Linked DNA regions of Homo sapiens: region 1 is reported to be linked to region 2. The links are microRNA targets in miRTarBase. Many come from high-throughput screens and were not tested one by one. Region 2 holds a microRNA gene; the other region holds the end of a gene's coding sequence. Distances are from middle to middle.
The links. Region 2 holds the annotated microRNA hsa-miR-638 (AGGGAUCGCGGGCGGGUGGCGGCCU, at 4,225-4,249, shown strand). A microRNA usually pairs through its seed, bases 2 to 8, with sites in the 3' UTR of a target mRNA and lowers its output. Matches are read on the target gene's strand: a 7mer-m8 pairs with bases 2 to 8, a 7mer-A1 pairs with bases 2 to 7 and ends in A, and an 8mer does both.

Region 1 (10,740 bases), 36 Mb from region 2:
GGCGTGGTGGCGGGCGCCTGTAGTCCCAGCCACTCAGGAGGAGAATGGCATGAACCCGGGAGGCGGAGCTTGCAGTGAGCCGAGATCGGGCTACTGCACTCCAGCCTGGGCGACAGAACGAGACTCCGTCTCAAAAAAAAAAAAAAAAAAAAAATAGGGGGTAAGATGTTGTGAGAGTTGGAGAGGCAGAGGCAGAGGCAGGACAAGTCACGCAGGGTCTTGTAGGACCCTGTAAAGATTTTATTATGAATTTTACAAGAAGGAAGGTGTGAGAGCAGGGTTTTTGCTGCGATGAGGATGGAAGGGAGGGAGGCAACCCGCCCCTTCCGGGCTGGATGAGAAATGGGAAAGGACTTTGAGAGCCCCTCCACTCTCTCTTTTTTTTTTTTTTTTGGCCTTCCTTCCCTAGGAGACGCCAGTCCCAGCGCTCCGGAGGTGGTGGGCGCGCGGGCAGCGGTGCCGCGGTCCTTCTCAGCGCCCTACCCGACGGCAGGGGGGTCCGCCGGCCCGGAGGCCTGCTCCTCGGCGGAGCGGCGGGCCCGCGCCGGGCCCTTTCTGACGCCCAGCCCCCTGCACGCCGTGGCGATGCGCAGCCCGCGGCCCTGCGGCCGCCCTCCCACCGACTCGCCCGACGCGGGGGGCGCAGGGCGGCCCCTGGACGGCTACATCTCGGCGCTCCTGCGCAGGCGCCGCCGCCGGGGGGCGGGCCAGCCCCGGACCAGTCCCGGGGGCGCGGACGGCGGCCCGCGGCGCCAGAACAGCGTGCGCCAGCGGCCGCCCGACGCGTCTCCGTCCCCCGGCAGCGCGCGACCCGCGCGGGAGCCCTCGTTGGAGCGCGTCGGGGGCCACCCCACCAGCCCTGCCGCCTTGAGCCGCGCCTGGGCGTCGTCGTGGGAGTCGGAGGCGGCACCCGAGCCCGCTGCGCCGCCCGCCGCCCCCTCACCCCCCGACAGCCCGGCTGAGGGCCGCTTGGTGAAGGCGCAGTACATCCCGGGCGCGCAGGCGGCCACCCGAGGCCTCCCTGGCCGCGCCGCCCGCCGCAAACCGCCGCCACTGACCCGCGGCCGCAGCGTGGAGCAGTCACCACCCCGGGAGCGTCCCCGGGCCGCCGGCCGCCGTGGACGCATGGCCGAGGCTTCGGGCCGCCGCGGCTCGCCCAGGGCCCGCAAGGCCTCGCGCTCCCAGTCTGAGACCAGCCTGCTGGGCCGCGCCTCCGCGGTCCCTTCGGGGCCCCCTAAGTACCCCACGGCGGAGCGGGAAGAGCCTCGGCCTCCACGGCCACGCCGCGGCCCAGCGCCCACGCTGGCGGCCCAGGCCGCAGGGTCCTGCCGTCGCTGGCGCTCCACTGCGGAGATCGACGCTGCCGATGGGCGCCGCGTGCGGCCCCGAGCCCCTGCGGCGCGTGTTCCCGGCCCCGGCCCGTCCCCGTCAGCTCCCCAGCGTCGTCTGCTTTACGGCTGCGCGGGCAGCGACTCCGAGTGCTCGGCTGGGCGCCTGGGGCCCCTGGGACGCCGGGGGCCTGCGGGAGGCGTCGGCGGGGGTTACGGGGAGAGCGAATCGAGCGCCAGCGAGGGAGAATCGCCTGCCTTCAGCTCTGCCTCCAGCGACTCAGACGGCAGCGGTGGCCTCGTGTGGCCGCAGCAGCTGGTGGCGGCCACCGCGGCCTCTGGGGGTGGAGCAGGTGCAGGGGCGCCCGCAGGCCCCGCCAAAGTCTTCGTGAAAATCAAAGCTTCCCACGCGCTCAAGAAAAAGATACTGCGTTTCCGTTCGGGTTCTCTCAAGGTCATGACTACAGTGTGAGTTTGGGGATTTGCTTGGGCTCCCCCTTCATGGCCTCTGCACCTCCACACTCCCAACCACTGACCCTTCCACATCTACCTTCCAAAGACCATCGTTTTCTCTGCTTCCAAAGACCCCCCTCACTCTCCCCACTCCTAACAGTCTTGGTTGAAAAGGCTCCCCCACCACCACCGAGAGGAATGGGGAGGAGCCCTGTTTGACCCAGTTCAGCTTCTAGCTTGGAAGCCCTTGGGCAAGACAGTTCCCCTTCTCTGGGCGTCACTTTCCTCATCTGTACAGTAAGTGTCCATGTATGCAAAAGGGGTAATTCGGTTTGAATTTCCCCGTTTTAGTTTAGAAGCCTAGTCTGTTTGTTCCCCTCCACCGCTCTCCCTCTCATTCCTGATGAGCCCTCTCATTCCTCCTTTCCTTGCCCAGCTATGGCCCCCTCTCATTCACAAAGTGCCCCCTCCATGTCCCTGGACCCTTAAGATATCCCCTTGGCACCCTGGTCAGAGACTCTGTGTCTGACTCAGGTGGTCCCTGCAGAGTGCCCTGGGAAGGGAAGGAGCACTGATTTGGGGGTTTTGAGGGTCAAGTAGGGGTTGGTAACACCTGGAAAGAAGGACTCTTTCACTTCGATCCCTGGACAATTATGGAGGATTCGGAGGTAGAAGAGGGGAAGGAAGATGGTTTCTATCTCATGACCCCCACTCCCTGTGAGAGGGAATGGGGGAAGCCTGATGACCCTCAGCTGTTCCAATCTAGTATTTTTTTTCTTTTTTAAAATTACTGTATTTATTATGACGATGGTGACTCCCCAGTGCAAAGGGGGGCCAGATTCTGTGTGTTTCTCTAACCTCTTTGTAAATAAATGCACAGTGTAACATATGTGGTGGACTCTCACTGAATGATTAAATGGGAGAAATGCTCTTTTTCCTTTGGACTAACATTTATTGAGCAACTTCTGTTTGCTGTGGATATGGCAGTTTCCAGGGAGGTCCCAGGGTGAATCTCAACATCATCTTCCTACCATTGGCTATTTTACATCAAGGAATCTAACCTTTGATTGGGTTATGTTTGGTTATAAATACGATTTCAGGCGGGATGTGATGGCTCATGCCTATAATCCCAGCACTTTGGGAGGCAGGGGTAGGGGGATATCTTGAGCCCAGGAGTTCAAGACCAGCTTGGGCAACATGGTAAAACCCCATCTCTACAGAAAATACAAAAATTAGCTGGGTGTGGTAGGTCATTCCTGAACTATCAGCTGCTCAGGAGGCTGAGGTGGGAGAATCATGTGAGTCTGGGAGGCCCAGGCTGCAGTGAGCCATGATTGTGTCACTGCACGCCAGCGTGGATGACAAGCAAGACCCTGTCTCAAAAAACAAAAAAATATGGTTTCACAAAAATGGGAACAGCATGGGAAACAGACAGCCCCTAAATCCCCTCTCTGACGGTCATCATAATCAGCAGTTCGATGTGCATCCTCCCATGTTTATGTGTTTGCATATATATATGAATCTAAATAACTATATAAATATATATGTATGAATATACATATAGTTATATATGTAATATATGTGTGAAATTATATATTTACATAAATTGAACTATATGTATGCAGTGTTTATCACTTCTTTGTGTGAAATCTCTGTGCCTGAAGATTTCTTTATGAGGAGGGTTTAAATTAAGGATTGAATTTCTTTGATAGTTATAGTACTATTTAGGTTTTCTATTTTTTCTTGTGTCAGTTTTGCTAGGCCCTATTCATCTAAGAATTTGTCCATTTCGTCTAAATCTACTTATTTTTTCTTTTGTTTTTTGAGATGGGGTCTTGCTCTATTACCCAGGGTGGAGAGCAGTGGTGTGATGATGACTCACTGTAGCATCAACCCTCAGGCTCAAACAGTCCTCCCACTTCAGCCTCCTGAGTAGCTGGGACCACAGGTCCACGTCACCCTGCCCAGCTATTTTTAAACTTTTTGTAGAGATGGGATCTCCTTATGTTGCCCAGGCTGGTCTTGAACTCGTAGGCTGAAGTGATCCTCCTGCCTTGGCCTCCCAAAGTGTTAGGATTACAGATGTGAGCCACCATGTCTGGCCCATTTCATCTAAATTTAGGTAACACATTTTCCTATCACTATATTATTATTGATAGGTGCATATAAGACTCCATTATGGCCAGGTGAGGTGGCTCACACCTGTAATCCCAGCACTCTGGGAGGCCAAGGCAGGTGAACCACCTGAGGTCAGGAGTTCGAGACCAGCCTGGCCAACATGGCAAAACCCTGTCTCTACTAAAAATACAAAAATTAACCAGGTGTGGTGGCGTGTGCCTATAGTCCCAGCTACTCGGGAGGCTGAGGCAGGAGAATCACTTGAACCTGGGAGGTGTAGGTTGTAGTGAGCCAAGATCACTGCACTGCACTCCAGCCTGGGTGACAGAGTGAGACTCCATCTCAAAAAAAAAAAAAAAAAAAAAAGAAGACTCCATTATGGGGATTCTCATAATCTAACCCTATTGTCAGCTCTCCAATTCTTTTGCTATTATGAATCTTGCTACAGTAATGTCCTTGTATTTGCCTCTTTGTGCATGTCTGTGTGTATTTTTATAGGACCCATTCCTAGAAATAGAGTTGCTTGGTCATTAATAGTATGCCAATTTAAGAACTTTTAATGGACACTGCCACACTTCCATCCATTAGCACTGCCCCCAGCTGACATTTCTAACAGCAGTTTTTCAGATGTCTGTTTTCTACCCCTTCACCAAACGATAGATGCTATTGATCATTTTCATTTTGCAAATCTTATGGGGAGAAACTGTGTTCTGTTTTAATTAGCACGTTTCCTCCCTTTTCCTTGAGGTAACACATAGTTTTGGGTGCTTATTGGCTCTTGCATTTCCTCTTATGTGAATTGCCTTTTTACTCTTTTCCTTCCTTCCTTCCTTCTTTCCTTCTTTCCTTCCTTCTTATTTTTTATTATTTTTTTTTGAGACAGGGTCTTGATCTGTCACCCAGCCTGGAGTGCAGTGGTATAGCTCACTGCAGCCTCGAACTCCTGGGCTTCAGCAATCCTCCCACCTCAACCCCCCTGAGCAGCCGGGACTAACAGGCATGCACCACAACGCCTGGCTAATTTTCCAATTTTTTGTAGAGATGAACTCTCACTATATTGCCCAGGCTGGCCTTGAATTCTTGACCTCAAGCAATCCTTGCACCTTGGCCACCAAAAGTGTTAGGATTTCAGGCGTGAACCACCGTGCTCGTCCTGTTTTTCTATTGGGTATGTAAAATTATACTCAGTTCTCAGGTGGGTAAATGGAGGCTTAGAGAAGAGCCATTACTTTCCCTGGTCACAAAGCAAGGGGGATCCAGGGCTAGGACCCAGCCCCCACCTGAATCCACAGTCAGAAGGATGGGGTGTGTGTTGCTGCTTTGACCTTTGAATCTGCATGGGTAGATCTACCTCCCTTTGAGCTCGGAAAGAGCAGGGACCAGGCCTGCTGTGTTCACTTGTATCTTCAGCGCCCAGCCAGGCACTGGGGTTAGAGCAGGGGACAAAACAGGAAAAAAAAACCCTGCCCTACGGAGCTTCTATGGTGGGGGTAGGGTGAGGGATAGACCTATGTTTCACTTAGAGTAATAATGAATAAAAGTTATTTTTAAAAGTTTTTCCAGGAAAAGCTATTGCTTGGCAGGTCCTTGGGAACAATTACTCCAACTTCATTCCATAAAAGGGGCAACTGAAGTCAGAAAGGAGAAGAGATTTGTTTGTCTAGGGCTACATAGGTCACTTAGTGGCCAAAATGGTTGAAGTAAATATGGATGGATATTTAAGGGTCTCCCTTTTAAGGTTTTAGTGCTTACAAAAAATAACAGCTAACACTTATTTGAGCACTTATGACGTGCTGGACTCTATTCTCACCACTTTACACATATTGACCCATTTAATCCTCTCCACCTGTATTAGTCTGTTTTCATGCTGCTGATAAAGATATAACCTGAGACTGGGTAATTTTTAAAGAAAAAGAGGTTTCATAGACTCACAGTTCCACGTGGCTGGGGGGGCCTCACAATCATGGCGGAAGGTGAAAGTCACGTCTCACCAGGTCAGGAGTTCGAGACCAGCCTGGCCAACACGGTGAAACCCTGTCTCCACTAATAATTAAAAAATTAGCCGGGCGTGGAGGCTGGGCGCAGTGGCTCACGCCTGTAATCCCAGCACTTTGGGAGGCCGAGGCGGGCGGATCACGAGGTCAGGAGATCGAGACCACCTGGCTAACACACTGAAACCCTGTCTCTACTAAAAATACAAAAATTAGCCGGGCGCGGTGGCGGGCGCCTGTAGTCCCAGCTACTCAGGAGACTGAGGCAGGAGAATGGTGTGAACCCAGGAGGCGGAGCTTGCAGTGAGCCGAGATCGCGCCACCGCACTCCAGCCTGGGCGACAGAGTGAGACTCCGTCTCAAAAAAAAAAAAAAAAAAAAAAAAGAATTAGCCAGGTGTGGTGGTGGGCGCCTGTAATCCCAGCTACTTGGGAGGCTGAGGCAGGAGAATCACTTGAACTTGGGAGGCAGAGGTTGTAAGGTTGTAGTGAGCCAAGATCACACCACTGAACTCCAGCCTGGGTGACAGAGTGAGACTCCATCTCAAAAACAAACAAACAAACAAACAAACAAAAATGTATCTGAAGCTCATAGGTGGCAAAGCCAGGATTCAAATTCAGGCACACTATTTTCAGAGTTCATGGCCTTAGTCAGTGCCCTACATGGTCTATTTGCTGGAACCATGATCTTAAAAAGGATATACCAGGAATGGGTCCCAGGGAGGGAAGCTGGGGGTGGTGGTGGTGGTACCATAATAAATATATTCTATAGTTTGTTAAAGGTGATGACTATAGGGAAAAACTGACCAGAGATATGAGGGGATTGGGTGGGGTGGTGAAGCGGGGAGTTTGTAATTTTACTTATTATTTTTTGAGATAGGGTCTCACTTTGTCACCCAGGCTGGAGTGCAGTGGCATAACCATGGCTCACTACAACCTTGACCTCCTGGGCTAAAGGGATCCTTCTGCTTCAGTCTCCCAAGCAGCTTGGCACACACCACCATGCATGGCTAATTTTTATTTTTTTTGGCAGAGGCAGGGTCTCACCATGTTGCCCAGGCTGGTCTCCAACTCCTAGTCTCAAGTGATCCTCCTGCCTAAGCCTCCCGAAGTGTTGGGATTACAAGCATAAGCCAGTGTGCCTGGCCAAGGGAGTGTGTAATTTTAAGTAGAGTGATCAAGAATGGTCTAATTGAGAAGATGGTGGCTCATGCCTGTAATCCCACCACTTTGGGAGGCCGAGGCAGGTGGATCACCTGAGGTCAGGAGTTTGAGACCACCCTGGCCAACATGGTGAAACCTCGTCTCTACTAAAAATACAAAAGTTAGCCAGGCGTGGTGGCATGTGCCTGTTGTCCCAGCTACTCGGGAGGCTGAGGCAGGAAAATCGCTTGTACCCGGGATGCAGAGGTTGCAGTGAGCCGAGATCGCGCCATTGCACTCCAGCCTGGGTGACAGAGCAAGACTCCGTCTAAAAAAAAAAGAATGGTCTAATTGAGAAGATGACATTTGAACAGAGACCTGAAGGAGGTGGAGGAGTGAGACTTATGAATATCTTGGGGAAGAATATCCTGGGCAGAGGAAATAGCCAGTGCAAAGGCCCTGAGGCAAAACTCTGCCTGGCATGTTGGCAAAACAGCAAGGAGGCCAGCTGGAGTGGGGAGGTGAGAGGGAGAAGAGGTAAGGACTGTCACATCATGGGGGCCTCGTGGGCTATGGTGGGGATTTTGGTTTTTATTTCCTGGCACCCATGGGAGAATTCTGAGCATATAAAAGAGAGTTTTTAAAGTTTTTTTTTTGGTGGGGGGGAGGGTTAATAGCTGTACTGAGATATATTCACCTACCAAAAAATTTACCCACGTAAAGTATACAGTTCAATGTTTTTAAATATATTGAATATAAAAGACATTCAGTATTTTAGTGGCCAGGCGTGGTGGCTCATGCCTGTAATCCCAGCACTTTAGGAGGCTGAGGTGGGCAGATCACTTGAGATCAGGAGTTCAAGAGCAGCCTGGGCAACATGGTGAAACCCCATCTGTACTAAAAATACAAAAATTAGCTAAGCATGGTGGTGCACGCCTGTAATCCCAGCTACTTGGGAGGCTGAGGCAGGAGAATCTCTTGAACTTGGGAGGCGGAGCTTGCAGTGAGCCGAGATCACGCCACTGAACTTCAGCCTGGGCAACAGAGCAAGACTCAGTCTCAAAAAAAAAGAAAAAACCAGTATTTTAGTATATTCAGAGTTGTGCAAATATCACCACAATGAATTCTAAAACATTTCCATCACCACCTAAAGAAACCCTGCACCACAGCTGCCATCCTCCAACCTTCCCAGCCCCTGGCAACCAGTAATCTACTTTTGCCTTCTATAGATTTGCTAGTTCTGGACATATCATATAAATGGAATCATACAATACAGGCCTTTAGTGACTGGCTTCTTTCACTTAGCCCAGGTTGGAGAGTAGTGGTGCAATCACGGCTCCCTGCAGCCTCTACCTCCTGGGTTCAGGTGATCCTCCCACCTCAGCCTCCTGGGAAGCTGAGACTGCAGGTACATGCCACCGTGCCTGGCTGATTTTTTAATGTTTTTTTGTAGAGACAGGGTCTTGCCATGTTATTCAGGCTGGTCTTGAACTTCTGGGCTCAAGCAACTTGCCTGCCTCGGCCTCCCAAAGTGCCGGGGTTACAGGCGTGAGCCACCGCACCCAGCCAGCATACTGTTTTCAACTTTCATCCATGTTGTAGCAGGTATTAGTACTTCATTTCCTTTTATTGACAAATAATTGATAGTCCATTGTCTGGATAGACCACATTTCATTTGTCCATTCATCAGTTGATGAACGTGTGTTGTTTCCACTTTGGGCTATTATGAATATTGCCTCTGTGAACATTTTTATATACGTGTTTGTATGTTTTTATTGCTCTTGGATATACACCTAGGAGTGGAATTGCTGGGTCATACGTTAACTCTATGTTTAACCTTTTGAGGAACTGCCAGGGTTTTTTTTGTTTTTTTTTTTTGAGATAGAGTCTCACTCTGTCACCCAGGCTGGAGTGCAGTCGTGCGATCTTGGCTCACTGCAACCTTCACCTGCCAGGTTCAAGCGATTCTCCTGCCTCAGCCTCCCAAGTAGCTGGGATTACAGGCGTGCACCACCATGCTCAGCTAATTTTTGTATTTTTAGTACAGATGGGGTTTCACCATGTTGCCCAGGCTGCTCTTGAACTCCTGACCTCAAGTGATCTGCCCGCCTCAGCCTCCCAAAGTGCTGGGATTACAGGCATGAGCCTCCACGCCCGGCCTGCCAGGTTGTTTCCTAAAGCGACTTCACCATTTTACATCCCCACCAGCTTATGAGGGTTCAGGTTGCTCCACATACTCACTTGCTATTATATGGGGACAGTTTGAAACAGTGTCCTTTTGGCTGCTCTGTGGGAAACAGGCTGAGGGGGACAGGGAGAAGATAGGAGGTCAATGCAGAGGTCACTGTAATAGTCCAAGCAGGAGGGAACGGTGTCTGGACCCAAGTGGGGACAGCAGAGGAAGTGAGAGGGATTGGATTCTGGAATTGCTTTGAAGATAAAGCCAACAGGATGTCTTACTTGGTGACTTGTGGAGTGTGAGAGAAGGCGGGGAGTCAAGGATGACCCCAGCCCAGGTGTGGTGGCTCACAGTTCAGGACCAGCCTAAGCAACATAGCCAGACCCTGCCTCTAAAAAAAAATAAAAAGTTAGGCTGGTTACAGTGGCTCACGCCTGTAATCCCAGCACTTTGGGAGGCTGAGGCAGGTGGATCACTTGAGGCCAAAGTTTGAGACCAGCCTGGCCATCATGGTGAAATCCCATCTCTACTAAAAATACAAAAAAAGTAGCCGGATTTGGTGGCACATGCCTGTGATCCCAGCTACTCAGGAGGCTGAGGCATGAGAATTGCTTGAGCTTGGGAGGCGGAGGTTGCAGCGCGCCGAGATTGTGCCACTGTACACCAGCATGAGTGACAGAGTGAGATTCTGTTAAAAAACAAAACAAAACCTGTTCATGGTTGTGCATGCCTGTAGTCCCAGTTACCGGGGAGGCTGAGGCAGGAGGATCACTTGAGCCCAGGAGTTCAGGCTGCAGTGAGCTATGATTGCACCACTGCACTCCAGCCTGGGCGACAGGCAAGACCCTGTTTCAAAACAACAACAAAAACTCAGAGATTTACCATCACTTGAGATGGGTAAACCTGAAATAAGAGCGAATTTTGGTCGATGGAATCAGCTCAGTATTGGATGCGTTGAGCTCGAGAGACCCACTAAACACCCAGGCGGCTGGGTATTTGATCCTGGAATTCACTCTTGCCGTTTGTTGATGATTTCTTGAATAATTAACGTCAGAACGGAATCCGAATCCAGGGCCTCAGTTTCCTCTTCCAAAAAATGGGGACTGTAATGCCTTCAAGCGCTAGGCTGTCATGAGGCTGGGGCACAGGACAGGAACTGAGGTCATCTGCTGCGGTCTGCAGCTCAGGAGAGGAACGGAGGCTGCGCTCACGGCAGGCAGTGTCTGTCTGTCCGTCTCCCCCATCCCCCAGCTTCTGGCCGCGGTGGAGGAGCGGGAGGGAAGACTGGATCGTCACCCTGTCTTCCCCCTCTCTGAGCTGGTTTCCTCCTCGGGGGCTGCCCAGGCCAGACTGCTGATAGAAACCAGCTGCGAGAGGCGCGGAGGCTCGGCACACGCCCAGGCCCCTCCTCGGCGCCGGCGGACCCCGATGGCGGGGCGAGGAGCGCCTTGGCTCCCCTCCCCTCTTCCGCAGCCGGGCCTGGGGCCCTGGCACGTCCGGCGCGCCTGATGCTTTCCAGATGTGGGCTT
Region 2 (12,065 bases):
GCATGTACAGTCGTGTTCCATTTTACGGAGGAGGACACTGAGGCACAGAGGAATGAAGTTTACATGGTCACTGTCACTTTCTTAGTCCGTTCTGGCTGCCATATATAACAAAATACCATCAACTGGGTGGCTTATAAACAGCAGAAATTTATTTATCACAGTTCTAGAAGCTGGGAAATTCAAGATCAAGGTACCAGCAGATTCAGTGTCTGTTGAGGGCAAACTTCCTAGATGGCGATCTTTTCTCTAATCTCACATGGCGGGAGGGGCAAGGCAGCTCTCTGGGGTCTCTTTTATGAAGGCGCAGTGAGAAGCTCAGCAGGTTTGTGAAAAGAAAAAAAAATACATAAGGGCACAAATCCCATTCACCTAATCACCTAATCGCCTTCCAAAGGCTCCACCTCCAATTACCATCATGTTGGGGATTAGGTTTCATCATGTCAATCTTGGTGTGGTGGGTGATGGGGTAGAGGGCTGGTCTATAAACATTCAGACCATAATAATCAGTAAATAAACAGGCCCAGGATCTAACCCAGATATGATCAGTTACAGAGCTAGTGATCTTCACCAGCCTGGGCAACACGGTGAAACTCCTTCTTTACAAAAAATACAGGTGGTGTGCATCTGTGCTCCCAGCTACTGAGGAAGCTGAGGTGGGAGGATTGCTTGAGCCCAGGAGGTTGAGGCTGCAATTGCACCACTGCACTCCAGCCTGGGCAGCGGAGTGAGACTCTGTCTCAAAAACAAAAACCAGTGCTCTTCAAAAATGAAGTTTTTGAAATGGAAAAAGTAGGCCAGGTGCAGTGGCTCACACCTGTAATCCCAGCTACTCTGGAGGCTGAGGCAGGAGAATCACTTGAACCCAGGACGTGGAGGTGGCAGTGAGCCGAGATCGCACCACTGCACGCCACCCTGAGAGACAGCGAGATTTCGTCTAAAAAAAAAAAAAAAAAGGTTGGACGTGGTGGTGGCTCACACCTGTAATCCTAGCACTTTGGGAGGCCAAGGAGGGCAGATCATGAGGTCAGGAGTTCAAGACCAGCCTGGCCAACATGGTGAAACCCCATCTCTACTAAATATACAAAAATTAGCTGGGTGTGGTGGCACGTGCCTGTAATCCCAGCTACTCTGGAGGCTGAGGCAGGAATATCGCTTGAAGCCAGGACTTGGAGGTTGCAGTGAGCCAAGATCGCACTACTGTACTCCAGCCTGGGAGACAGAGCAAGCCTCCATCTCAAAAAAAGAAAAGAAAAGAAAAAAAAAGTCCAAGCGCGGTGGCTCACACCTGCAATCCCAGCACTTTGGGAGGCCAAGGAGGGAGGGTCATCTGGGTCAGGAGTTCGAGACCAGCCTGGCCAACATGGTGAAACCCCATCTCTACTAAAAATACAAAAATTAGCCAGGTATGGTGGCAGGCGCCTGTAGTCCCAGCTACTTGAAAGGCTGAGGCAGGAGAATCATTTGAACCCGGGAGGCGGAGGTTGCAGTGAGCTGAGATTGCATCACTGCACTCCAGCCTGGGCTACAGAGCAAGACTCTGTTTCAAAAAAAAAAAAAAGTGAAAAAGTAATACATGTATGTAATCCACAATTCAAATCACATCAAAAGTGCAACTACTTTTATCAATTTATGTATTTTTCCAGCAATTTTCCGTGTGTACATATGGTTTTCATGCATGTCAGCATCCTTCACACACAGTTCTGTACCTTGCTTGTTTTTTCCTCTTAGTATATCTCAAATTATTTATACTTCAGTACATGAAGAGTTTCCTCAACGTTTTTGTTTGTTTGTTTATTTGTTTTTGAGACGGGGTTTTGCTCTTGTTGCCCAGGCTGGAGTGCAGCGGTGCGATCTCAGCTCACCGCAACTTCTGCGTCCCGTGTTCAAGCGATTCTCCTGCCTCAGCCTCTCGAGTAGCTGGGATTACAGGCACGCACCACCACGCCTGGCTAATTTTTTGTATTTTTAGTAGAAACGTGGTTTCACTATGTTAGCCAAGCTGGTTTCGAACCTCTAACCTCAGGTGATCTGCCCTCCTTGGCCTCCCAAAGTGCTGGGATTACAGGCATGAGCCACCGCACCTGGCGCTTTTTGCCTATTTCTTTGAGACCTGGGGTTTTGGGTCACAAAACAGGCAAATGCCATGAGCCACCCTCCTCCTCTTTCTCCATCTTCTTGTGCTGCCTCAGGTCAGAGCACTTACCTGCTCCTGCCTTCTCACTGGGTTTCCTTGTCTCTGGCCTATTTGTCTCCAGAGGGGTCAAAACACTTCAAATCCTCCTATTTGTCTCTGTCCACTGTCAGGAGTTCCAGTTCCCAGAACCCCAATTTTGCCTACAAAATAGCGTGTCTTTTCACGGGGAGAGGATTTGTTGAGTTTTAGTGGGTACTCAAAAAGATCTAAAGCCAGTTGGGGGGGTTCACACATGTAATCCCAGCACTTTTGGGAGGCCGGCCTGTGAGGGTCGTTTGGGCGCAGGAGTTTGAGACCAGCCTGGACAACACAGCAAGACCCTGTCTCTATAAAAAATAAAATAAAAATAATTAGCTGGGCATAGTTGCGCACGTCTGTGGTTCCAGCTACTCGGGACGCTGAGGCGGGAGGATCGTTTGAGCCCAGGTGCTTGTTGAATTGAGCTATGAGTGCACTACTGCACCCCAGCCTGGGCAACAGAGTAAGGACCCAGTTTCTAAGAAAAGAAGATTCATTAGCTAGACGCGGTGGCTCACACCTGTAATTCCAACACTTTGGGAGGCCAAGACGGGCGGATCACTTGAGGCCAGGCGTTCGAGACCAGCCTGGCCAATATGGTGAAACCCCGTCTACTAAAAATACAAAATTAGCTGGGCGTGGTGGCTCACACTTGTAATCCCAGCTATTCGGGAGGCTGAGGCAGGAGAATTGGTTGAACCGGGGAGGCGGAGGTTGCAGTGAGCCAAGATCGCGCTACTGCACTCCAGCCTGGGTGACAGAGTGAGTACCCCGCCTCAAAAAAAAGAAAAGAAAAAAGATTCATGATCTGCTAAAGTTGAAGAAGTGGGGGAAAACATTGGAGTGTTAGCGGCGTCAAGATCGGGCGTGAGCAGAAAGGGCACAGCATTTGCAAAGGCGTGGAGGAGTGATTTTATTGCGTTCTATCCCTAGGAAGCAATGACTTGGCCTCTACCATTTGCAGAGCGCATTGGGACCCTGCTCCCAGAGCTGGTTTGCAGTCTGGGAACTGAGATGCGCTCTGGGACTTGTAGTTTTCCCCAGTGCCAGGAAACTCAAAAATCGAGACATCGGATCCCACCACGAGGTGTCGCCCTTGAGCGAGTACGGTGGGATCTATCCTATACTTCAGAAGGCTGTTGCAGACATCCAACAATCACAAGGAAGAACGGGAGTTTTTCTGATTGACAGATATGGTTCTCAATGATAGTCAAGATTCGGATGTTAAAGCCCGCCCTCTTTTGCCTGGTTGGCTGGAGCAACGAAGTGATATTTATATGAACCAATGGGAAATTCTTAGGGAACGAGGTAGTAGCTCAATCCCCAACACCATTGGTCCACATTGTCTACTGGCACGTCTGCCTGCCAATAAGATGGTGGAACTTCGCCAATGGGCAGAGCCAACGTGCCTTTTTCGGAAACACCCCCTTCCTCTCTTGACAACTTGCTTTCTGCCGCTATTGGCTGTTGCACAACAGTGACGGTTCTTTTGTCCAATAAGTCAGCAAGACGGTCCCCAGGGGGAAGGTTTACTCAACCATAGGCCCGTGCCTAGTTTTTATTGGCTAGTGTATCCGAGTGGCGGTGCAGCAGGCCAGTCGCGTGCGGCGCGAGTGCTTTGGGCGCAGCCCCCGGGGCCGGGGCGGGAGGTCGCTCGGGTCGGGTGTCGCCTGAGAACCGGATGAGGCGGCGACCGTGAGGCCGAGCCGGGAGCGGGCGTCTTGCCGAGGCCCGGGCGGGCGGGGAGCAACGGCTACAGACGCCGCGGGGCCAGGTCGTTGAGGGTCGGCGGCGGGCGAGGAGCGCAGGGCGCTCGGGCCGGGGGCCGCCGGCGCCATGGGCAACCGCGGGATGGAAGAGCTGATCCCGCTGGTCAACAAACTGCAGGACGCCTTCAGCTCCATCGGCCAGAGCTGCCACCTGGACCTGCCGCAGATCGCTGTAGTGGGCGGCCAGAGCGCCGGCAAGAGCTCGGTGCTGGAGAACTTCGTGGGCCGGTGAGCGGGCGCGGCAGGGATCGCGGGCGGGTGGCGGCCTAGGGCGCGGAGGGCGGACCGGGAATGGCGCGCCGTGCGCCGCCGGCGTAACTGCGGCGCTTGCGTGCCCGCGGCGGGGAACCGGACGGGGTCGGGGAGGCGGGCCCTGTGGGACGCCCTGGGCAGAGGACTCCCTGCAGGGGCTCCGGAGCAGGCCCGGGCCCCAGGGGCGGTGTCACGGGCCAGGGCGCCGTAGGACAGGAGGTGCGCTGGAACCCTGCGGTCCATCTGGTCCCAGCTTTCGTGGGTGAAGTCTGCCATCTGGTTGGCCGTGGGTCTGGGGTAGATCCCTCTTCTGCTCTTTCGGGCTGTCCATCAGAGGTGAAACCGGCCATCTAGATATCTATTGGGGCGACCGCTGCGGTCTGGCTGGCTTGTTCTTGTATCTGGAGCTGCCCCCGCCGTCTGGTTGGCTGTCTCTCTGTCCTGGGCAAGCCTCCCTGCCACCACCATTTGGTTGTCCATCTGTCCAGTCCCACCTGGCAGCCCCCTGCTGTCTGGCTAGCTGTCCAGGGTGACCTCTGCTGTCTGGCCGCCCATCCGTGCCCCTCACAGACTTTAACACTGAGCAGTCCCTCTGTTGGGTGACACCAGCTGGCCTCTACTGTCTGACTGGCTAGCTGACTCCTAGGGGACCCTGTTTGATTCTCTCTGGCTGACTCTTACAGCTTGATTCCTGGCTAGCGCTGGCTCCTCTCTTCCGTGTGAATTCTTCTGTCTGTCTGGCCATCTCCTAGTCTGCCCATGACTACCCCTGAGTGTCTGGCACAACGGCTCTGGAAAGGGGTGGTAGGAGGGTAGAGGGGAGAACAGAGCTGAAGGAGGAGGTTTGGACCCTACTTCCCCTCTCAGCTGGAAGGAGGACTCTGGGGGTACCTTACTTCAGGATTCCTTTCCGAGTGCTAGAACACAGGGGCCCGCCTCCCAGCTACAGCCTACAAATTGGGGGCCCTCCTTTGGAGCCTGGGAAGGGGCTTCTTGCGTGATCAGGCCTCAGTGGCTAGCGCTGGGATGTAGCCTTCTCTGGACAGCCTTGAGAAGCCGCGGTGTGCCCATCTGTCCAGTGGGCAAACTCCACTCTCTGGGGCTGTTTCCAGGATTCAGGAAGCAAATGAATGAGAACAGCCCGTGCAGCCACCTCTCCCTCCCACCAACCCCTCTTGCCTTTCTTGTCTCCCAGATGGGCGGCCACTTCTCCATTCCAGGAACTACTCATTTGTGGTGGTGTGGCTGCCAAATGATAACATCCTCCTCCTGTCATTATTGTCATTGTTATTGTTGTTATCATTGTCAAGGGATAATGTCCCTTCTTGATTCAACATCTTGAATCCCAAGTAAGGAGTGGGGTGGAGGCTGTGTTATCATCCCCACCTTAGCTGAGCTGGGAGGCTCAGAAGGGACTGTGATCACCCAAGGCCACTAGGCTGGCGTAAGGCCTTGTGTCTGCCATCCCAGAGCCTTGGGGCTTTGCTCCAAGCAGCACAAATCTCCTCTTTTGCTACCTTGTCTCTAGCTCATTGCCTTCTGTCTACCGTGGTGGAAAGGTGTGGACTTGCAGCCAGCTGGGCCTGGCCTGATCTCAGGCTGGACTGTGGTGTGGGCCCCTTTGAGTGACCATCTTCCTGCCTGCCCAGGCTTCTGGGACGGGGGTGGGGGGTGTTTGCAAAGCTCTGTCTCTTTCACTTGCCTTGTGACCTTGCACAGGTTGTCTTGGCCTCTCTAAGTCTTGGTTGACTCTCCTAAACAAGTTTATTTTATTTTATTTATTTATTTATTTTTTTTTTTTTTGAGACAGAGTCTCCCTCTGTCATCCAGTCTGGAGTGCAGTGGAGCAATCTTGGCTCACTGCAACCTCTGCCTCCCAGGTTCAGGCCATTCTTCTGCCTCAGCCTCCCGAGTAGCTGGGATTACAGGCGTCTACCACCAAGCCCAACTAATTTTTGTATTTTTAGTAGAGACGGGGTTTCACCATGTTGGCCAGGCTGGTCTCAAACTACTTACCTCAAGTGATCCTCATGCCTTGGCCTCCCAGAGTGCTGGGATTACAGGTGTGAGCCACCAAGCCTCGCCCCAGGAGTTCCAAGACCAGCCTGGGTAACATGACAAGATGCCATTCTACAAAAAATAAAAAAATTAGCCAGGTAGGGTGGTAGTCCCACACCTGTAGTCCCAGCAACTCAGGAGGCTGGCCCTGGGAGGACTGCTTGAGCCCAGGATGTCCAGACTGCAGTGAGCCGTGATTGCACCATTACCCTCCAGCCTGGGTGACAGAACCAGATCCGGTTTCAAAAAAAGAAAAGAAAAAGTGCTTACTTACCTAACGCACTGCCTGGCACATAGTAGGTCTACATGGATGGGGCTATTGTTGTTTATCTGGCTGGTTCCTTTGCTATCAGGGACAAAAGCTAACCAGAATGAAAGTGCTTTCACGTTACACACTTAAGCCTTATGAGGGAGGCATTGCTATAATCCCCATTTTACAGAGCAGGAAACTGAGGCTCAGATAGCTGAGCAGAACACTCTCACTGGAGGCTGTAAAGTGAGGAGTTAGGTGTTCTGGGTTGGGAACCTGGGTCTCTCTCCCATCCTTACCTCTCCTCAGTCCCTCTACCCCTTGCCTTTCTCTCCTGTCTACCATGGTGTCTGGCAGCTGCCGGCCAGTATGGAGCTGGTTCCTGTGGCGACCTCCTAGAATCCTGCAATGCAGGAGTTGCTCATTATATATATATTTTTACACCGAGTCTCACTCTGTTCCCCAGGCTGGAGTGCAGTGGTGTTATCTCAGCTTACTGCAACCTCCACCTCCCATGTTCAAGCGATTCTCATACCTCAGCCTCCCGAGTAGCTGGGATTACAGGCGCGCGTTACCACACCCGGCTAATTTTTGTATTTTTAGCAGAGATGGGGTTTCACCATGTTGGCCAGGCTGGTCTTGAACTCCTGACCTCAGGTGATCCGCCCACCTCGGCCACCCAAAATGCTGGCATTAAAGGTGTGAACCACCATGGCTGGCCTCGTTAAGAGTATTAATTCAGTACCTGAAAGCCAAAGTTGTAAAAAGGCCTCTCTTTGGGTATGAGGGGCTCAAACAAGGCTTACTTTTTTTTGGGGGGGTGTAAGAGATAAGGTCTCTCTTTGTTGCCGAGGTTGGAGTGGAGGGGTGCAGTCCTAGCTCATTGCAGCCTCGAACTCCAGGGCTCAAGCAATCCTCCTGCCTCTGCCTCTAAAAGCACTAGGATTACAGGTGTGAGCCATTGCGCCGAGCCTGGATTTTCTAAGGATGTGGTCCGAGTGGGAACAGCCCAGTTAGTTCAGCCCTATAGCTGGAAGTCCAGATCACTGGCTCTGGGGGCCAAGGCCTGCCTGCTGGGTCTTTTGTTTTACCTGCGTAGCTTTTGTTTTTAATAAGACTTTCCAGTGTTAGATTTCCAGTCAATATCCGGATTTCTTGTGGCTCTAAGACACTCAGATCTATAGAGTTCTGAGTTGTCATGCAAAGGCTGTGGGCCTAAGGCCTGGTTCCACCATGTCTGGCTGTGCGACTCGGCCACGTGGATTTGGCGTTCTGGGCCTCAGATTCCTTTTCTGTAAGCTGAGGGTGGTAACTGGTACCCTGGGGCCTAGATGGGTGATTGGGTGATGCGTGCCGAGTGCATGTGTCTTATACGCATGGTGGCTGTTGTTGTAATCAGTTTCACCTGGCGTTGCTGAGCCTTTGTCCCTTGTGGCAGTAATGGCTTCGATTTCAGAAGCACCAGTCACTGTCCCATCAGACTAAGAGTGGCCACTCCAGCTGCCACAGTCCCCACTACTCCCTAGCACTCACCCAGGCCTAGATCATTTTGCTTGGAGCCTCCTGGCCCTGGAACCTTTGAGTTTGAGACCCCTGGCTTGTCTGCGGTGCACCAGCAGATAGAACTTTGGCCCTAAGGAGAAAGGAGGGCATCACTCCCTCTTGACCCTTGTCATTTAGCCTCAGGGGCTGGCCAGAAGGAAGGCCTTAGGCATTCCCGCACCCTAGCCTCCCGAGTAGCTGGGACTGCAGGCACCCGCCACCACGCCTGGCTAATTTTTGTATTTTTAGTAGAGACGAGGTTTCACCATGTTAGCCAGGATGGTCTCAATCTTCTGACCTTGTGATCCGTCCACCTCGGCCTCCCAAAGTGCTGGGATTACAGGCGTGAGCCACCGCGCCTGGCCTGAGATAGGGTCTTATACTGTCACCCAGGCTAGAGTGCAGTGGCACCATCTCTGCTCACTGCAGCCTTGACCTCCTGGGCTCAAGCGATTCTCCTACCTCTCAGCCTCCTAAGTAGCTGGGACTACAGGCACGTGCCACCACGCTTGGCTAATTTTTCATTTTTTGTAGATACAGGGCCTTGCTGTGTTGCCCAGGCTGGTCTCGACCTCCTCGCCTCAAATGATCCTCCTGCATCAGTCTCCCAACGTGCTGGCATTACAGGTGTGAGCCACTGCGCCCAGCCTCCTCTTCATTAAAATACAAGTTATAATAGCACTTCTTTCCCTTTCTTTTTTTTTTTTGAGACGGAGTCTGGCTCTGTTGCCCAGGCTGGAGTGCAGTGGTGCGATCTCGGCTCACTGCAATCTCGCCTCCTGAGTTCAAGTGATTCTCCTGTCTCAGCCTCCCGAGTAGCTGGGACTACAGTTGCGAGCCACCACACCTGGCTAATTTTTTTTTTTTTTTTTTTGAGACGGAGTTTCATTCTTGTTGCCCAGGCTGGAGTGCAATGGCACGATCTTGGCTCACCGCAACCTCCCCTCCTGGTTTCAAGCCATTCTCCTGCCTCAGCCTCCTGAGTAGCTGGGATTACAGGCATGCACCACCACGCCTGGCTAATTTTGTATTTTTAGTAGAGGCGGGGTTTTCCCGTGTTGGTCAGGCTGGTCTCGAACTCCCGACCTCAGGTGATCTGCCGGCCATGGCCTCCCAAAGTGCTGGGATTACAGGCGTGAGCCACCGTGCCCGGCTAATTTTTCTATTTTTAATAGAGATGGGGTTTCGCCATGTTGGCCAGGCTGGTTCCAAACTCCTGACCTCAAGTGATCTTCCTGCCTTGGCCTCCCAAGGTGCTGGGATTGCAGGTGTAAGCCACCGCGCCCAGCCCCGTCTTCTTTAAAATAGGAGTTATAATAGCACTTCTTTCCCTTTCTTGAATAGGGATTAAGTGAGACAGTTTGGAGTGCTTGGCATAGAAGAAGTGCTTAAAACATTAGGTGTTGTTCGTTCATTAAAAAATGTTTCCTGAGTACTTTTACTGTGTGCCTGGGGACATGGCCCTGAGCAAGTTACCAGAACTTCTGCTCTGGAGGAGCTGGCCTTTCAGCAGGAAGCAAATAAAGGAGAAGCATGGGCCACTTAGTGGCTCAGGCCCACAATCTCAGCTCTTTGGGATCCAGGCGGGAGGATCACTTGAGCCCAGAAGTTGGAGACCAGCCTGGGCAACATAGACCCCGTCTCTACAAAAAATAAAAACATTAGCTGGGCATGGTGACACCTGTAGTCCCAGCTACTCAGGAGGCTGAGGCCGGAGGATGGCTTGAGCCTGGGATTTCAAGGCTGCAGTGAGCTCTGATCACGCTACTGCCTTCCAGCCTGGGCGGAAGAACGAGACCTCGTCTCAAAAAAAAAAAAAAAGGCGATAAGTATGATGGAAAAAAGGATCAAGGAGCAGGATGAGGGAGAGATCACAGTTGGAGGGGGTACATTTTATTTTATTATATTATTATTCTTTGAGACGGAGTCTCACTCTGTCTTCCAGGCTGGAGTGCAGTCACGCGATCTCGGCTCACTGCAACCTCCGCCTCCCAGGTTCACGCCATTCTCTTGCCTCAGCCTCCCGAGTAGCTGGGATTACAGGCGCCTGCCACCAGGCCCGGCTAATTTTTTGTATTTTTAGTAGAGATGGAGTTTCACCATGTTAGCCAGGATGGTCTCGATCTCCTGACTTCGTGATCCGCCCGCCTCGGCCTCCCAAAGTGCTGGGATAACAGGCGTGAGCCACTGCGCCTGGCCAGAGGGGGTACATTTTAAATAGGGAAATTGGTGACATTTGAGCAGAGCCTTGAAGGAGGCGAGGAAGGAACCCCTGGAGACGGGAAGAGAATCCAGTGCAAAGGTCCTGATGTGGGAGGATGCCCGGAGGCCAGTTTAGCAGGCCAGTGGAGGGAGATCAGATCTGGGAGATATTAGGGTGGGACCAGGCCTCTAGGAACATTGTGGGCAGGGAGGCTGTCTGAGCAGAGGGAAGTAAAGCTGGTGGCGCTACTGCTGTCCCTCTGGACCTGGCCAAGCTGAGGGCTCTCTCCTTTGATTTCCAGCTTCAACTCAGTTTTCTCAGTAAGCAGACTCCACAGGCATGTAGGCGCCCCGTGCCATTTTTCTTTTAATAAGAAGCAGCTGTGCCGGGGATGCTGGCGTTTCCAGCTGCGTTTTTATTTGGCCTTTGGTGATGTGTCCCTCCAGGGATATGTGGATGAGCCGCGGGGGCACTGCCTGTGCCTCAGTGGGTGCTGCACCAGTGCACATCGGATGCCCGTTGGCTCCTGTCCCTGACAGATGGAGGGGCACGTGATGTGTTCCTTGGGCTGGTTTGTCCCTTTAACAGATCTTATTAGTTTAGAGCCACTTGGAAATGACATCTTCTGTTTCCAGTGACTTTCCTTTTGGGCAAAGACAAATTGCATCTTGAAAAGGCCATACATGGCCGGGCATGGTGACTCACACCTGTAATCCCAGCATTTTGGGAGGCCGAGGCAGGCAGATCACAAGGTTGGGAGTTTGAGACCAGCCTGGCCAACATAGTGAATCCCGATCTCTACTAAAAATACAAAAATTAGCCAGGTGTGGTGGCGCATGCCTTTAGTCCCAGCTATTTGGGAGGCTGAGGCAGGAGAATCACTTGAACCCAGGAGGAGGAACTTGCAGTAAGCGGAGATCACGCCATTGCACTCCAGCCTGGGGGACAGAGTGAGACTCCATCTCAAAAAAAAAAAAAAAAGGAAAAAAGGAAAGGCCATGCAAGGCTCGGTTAGGGTGGTCTGCAGTGCTGGGCCTGCTGGAATTGGTACAGTCCAGAGGGATCTGTGGGAATATGGAAGGCTTGGTTCTGCCACACACCAAAAAAGTGACCTCACTTCTCTGGGCCTCAGTTTCCTCATCTGGAAAATGGGAACATGGTGGTCTCTGCCTACTGGGAGTGGACTGAGAATCACGTAGCAAATTGTTGTGAAACAGGCAGCATTTGTGATCTCGTTGGTTGGCTTTTGTCTCCTTTTATCTGGGATCAGGACTCTGATGACAGGTGTACGTTTCTTTTCTCTTGCTCTGTCCCCCAGACTGGAGTACAGTGGCGTAATCATGGCTCACTGCAGCCTCCAACTCCTGGGTTCAGGTGGTCCTCTCACCTGAGTCTCCTGAGTAGCTGGGACTATAGGCATGAGCCACCACACCTGGCTAATTACAAAAAAATTTTTTTGGCAGGGAGCGATGGCTCACACTTGTATTCCCAGCACTTGGGGAGGCCGAGGCGGGCGGATCACGGGGTCAAGAGATTGAGACCATCCTGGCCAACATGGTGAAACCCTGTCTCTACTAAAAATCCAAAAATTAGGTGGGTGTGGTGGCTCTCACCTGTAGTCCCAGCTGCTCGGGAGGCTGAGGCAGGAGAATCGCTTGAACCTGGGAGGCGGAGGTTGCAGTGAGCCGAGATCGTGCCACTGCACTCCAGCCTGGGCGACAGAGCGAGACTCTGCCTCAAAAAAAAAAAATTTTTTTTTTTTTAGAGACAGGGTCTTAC

Region 1: miRTarBase lists DACT3 as a target of hsa-miR-638. Seed matches in the 3' UTR shown: 7mer-m8 at 2,419-2,425.

Annotation. Positions count from the first base shown.
Region 1 is chr19:46,639,542-46,650,281 of GRCh38, reverse strand. DACT3 (dishevelled binding antagonist of beta catenin 3) reads left to right here. Exons shown (of 4, transcript NM_145056.3): 4 at 410-2,731. The coding sequence ends at 1,800. Among named protein-coding and RNA genes, the nearest start is that of GNG8, 8.7 kb to the right of the region's middle. RefSeq lists silencers at 1,784-1,833, 10,621-10,720.
Region 2 is chr19:10,714,195-10,726,259 of GRCh38, forward strand. It overlaps MIR638 (microRNA 638), which reads left to right and starts at 4,210; the gene lies at 4,210-4,309. DNM2 (dynamin 2) reads left to right here and starts at 3,885. Exons shown (of 21, transcript NM_001005361.3): 1 at 3,885-4,209. The coding sequence starts at 4,049. RefSeq lists silencers at 1,423-1,612, 3,744-4,413 and enhancers at 2,964-3,153, 3,344-3,463, 4,904-5,043.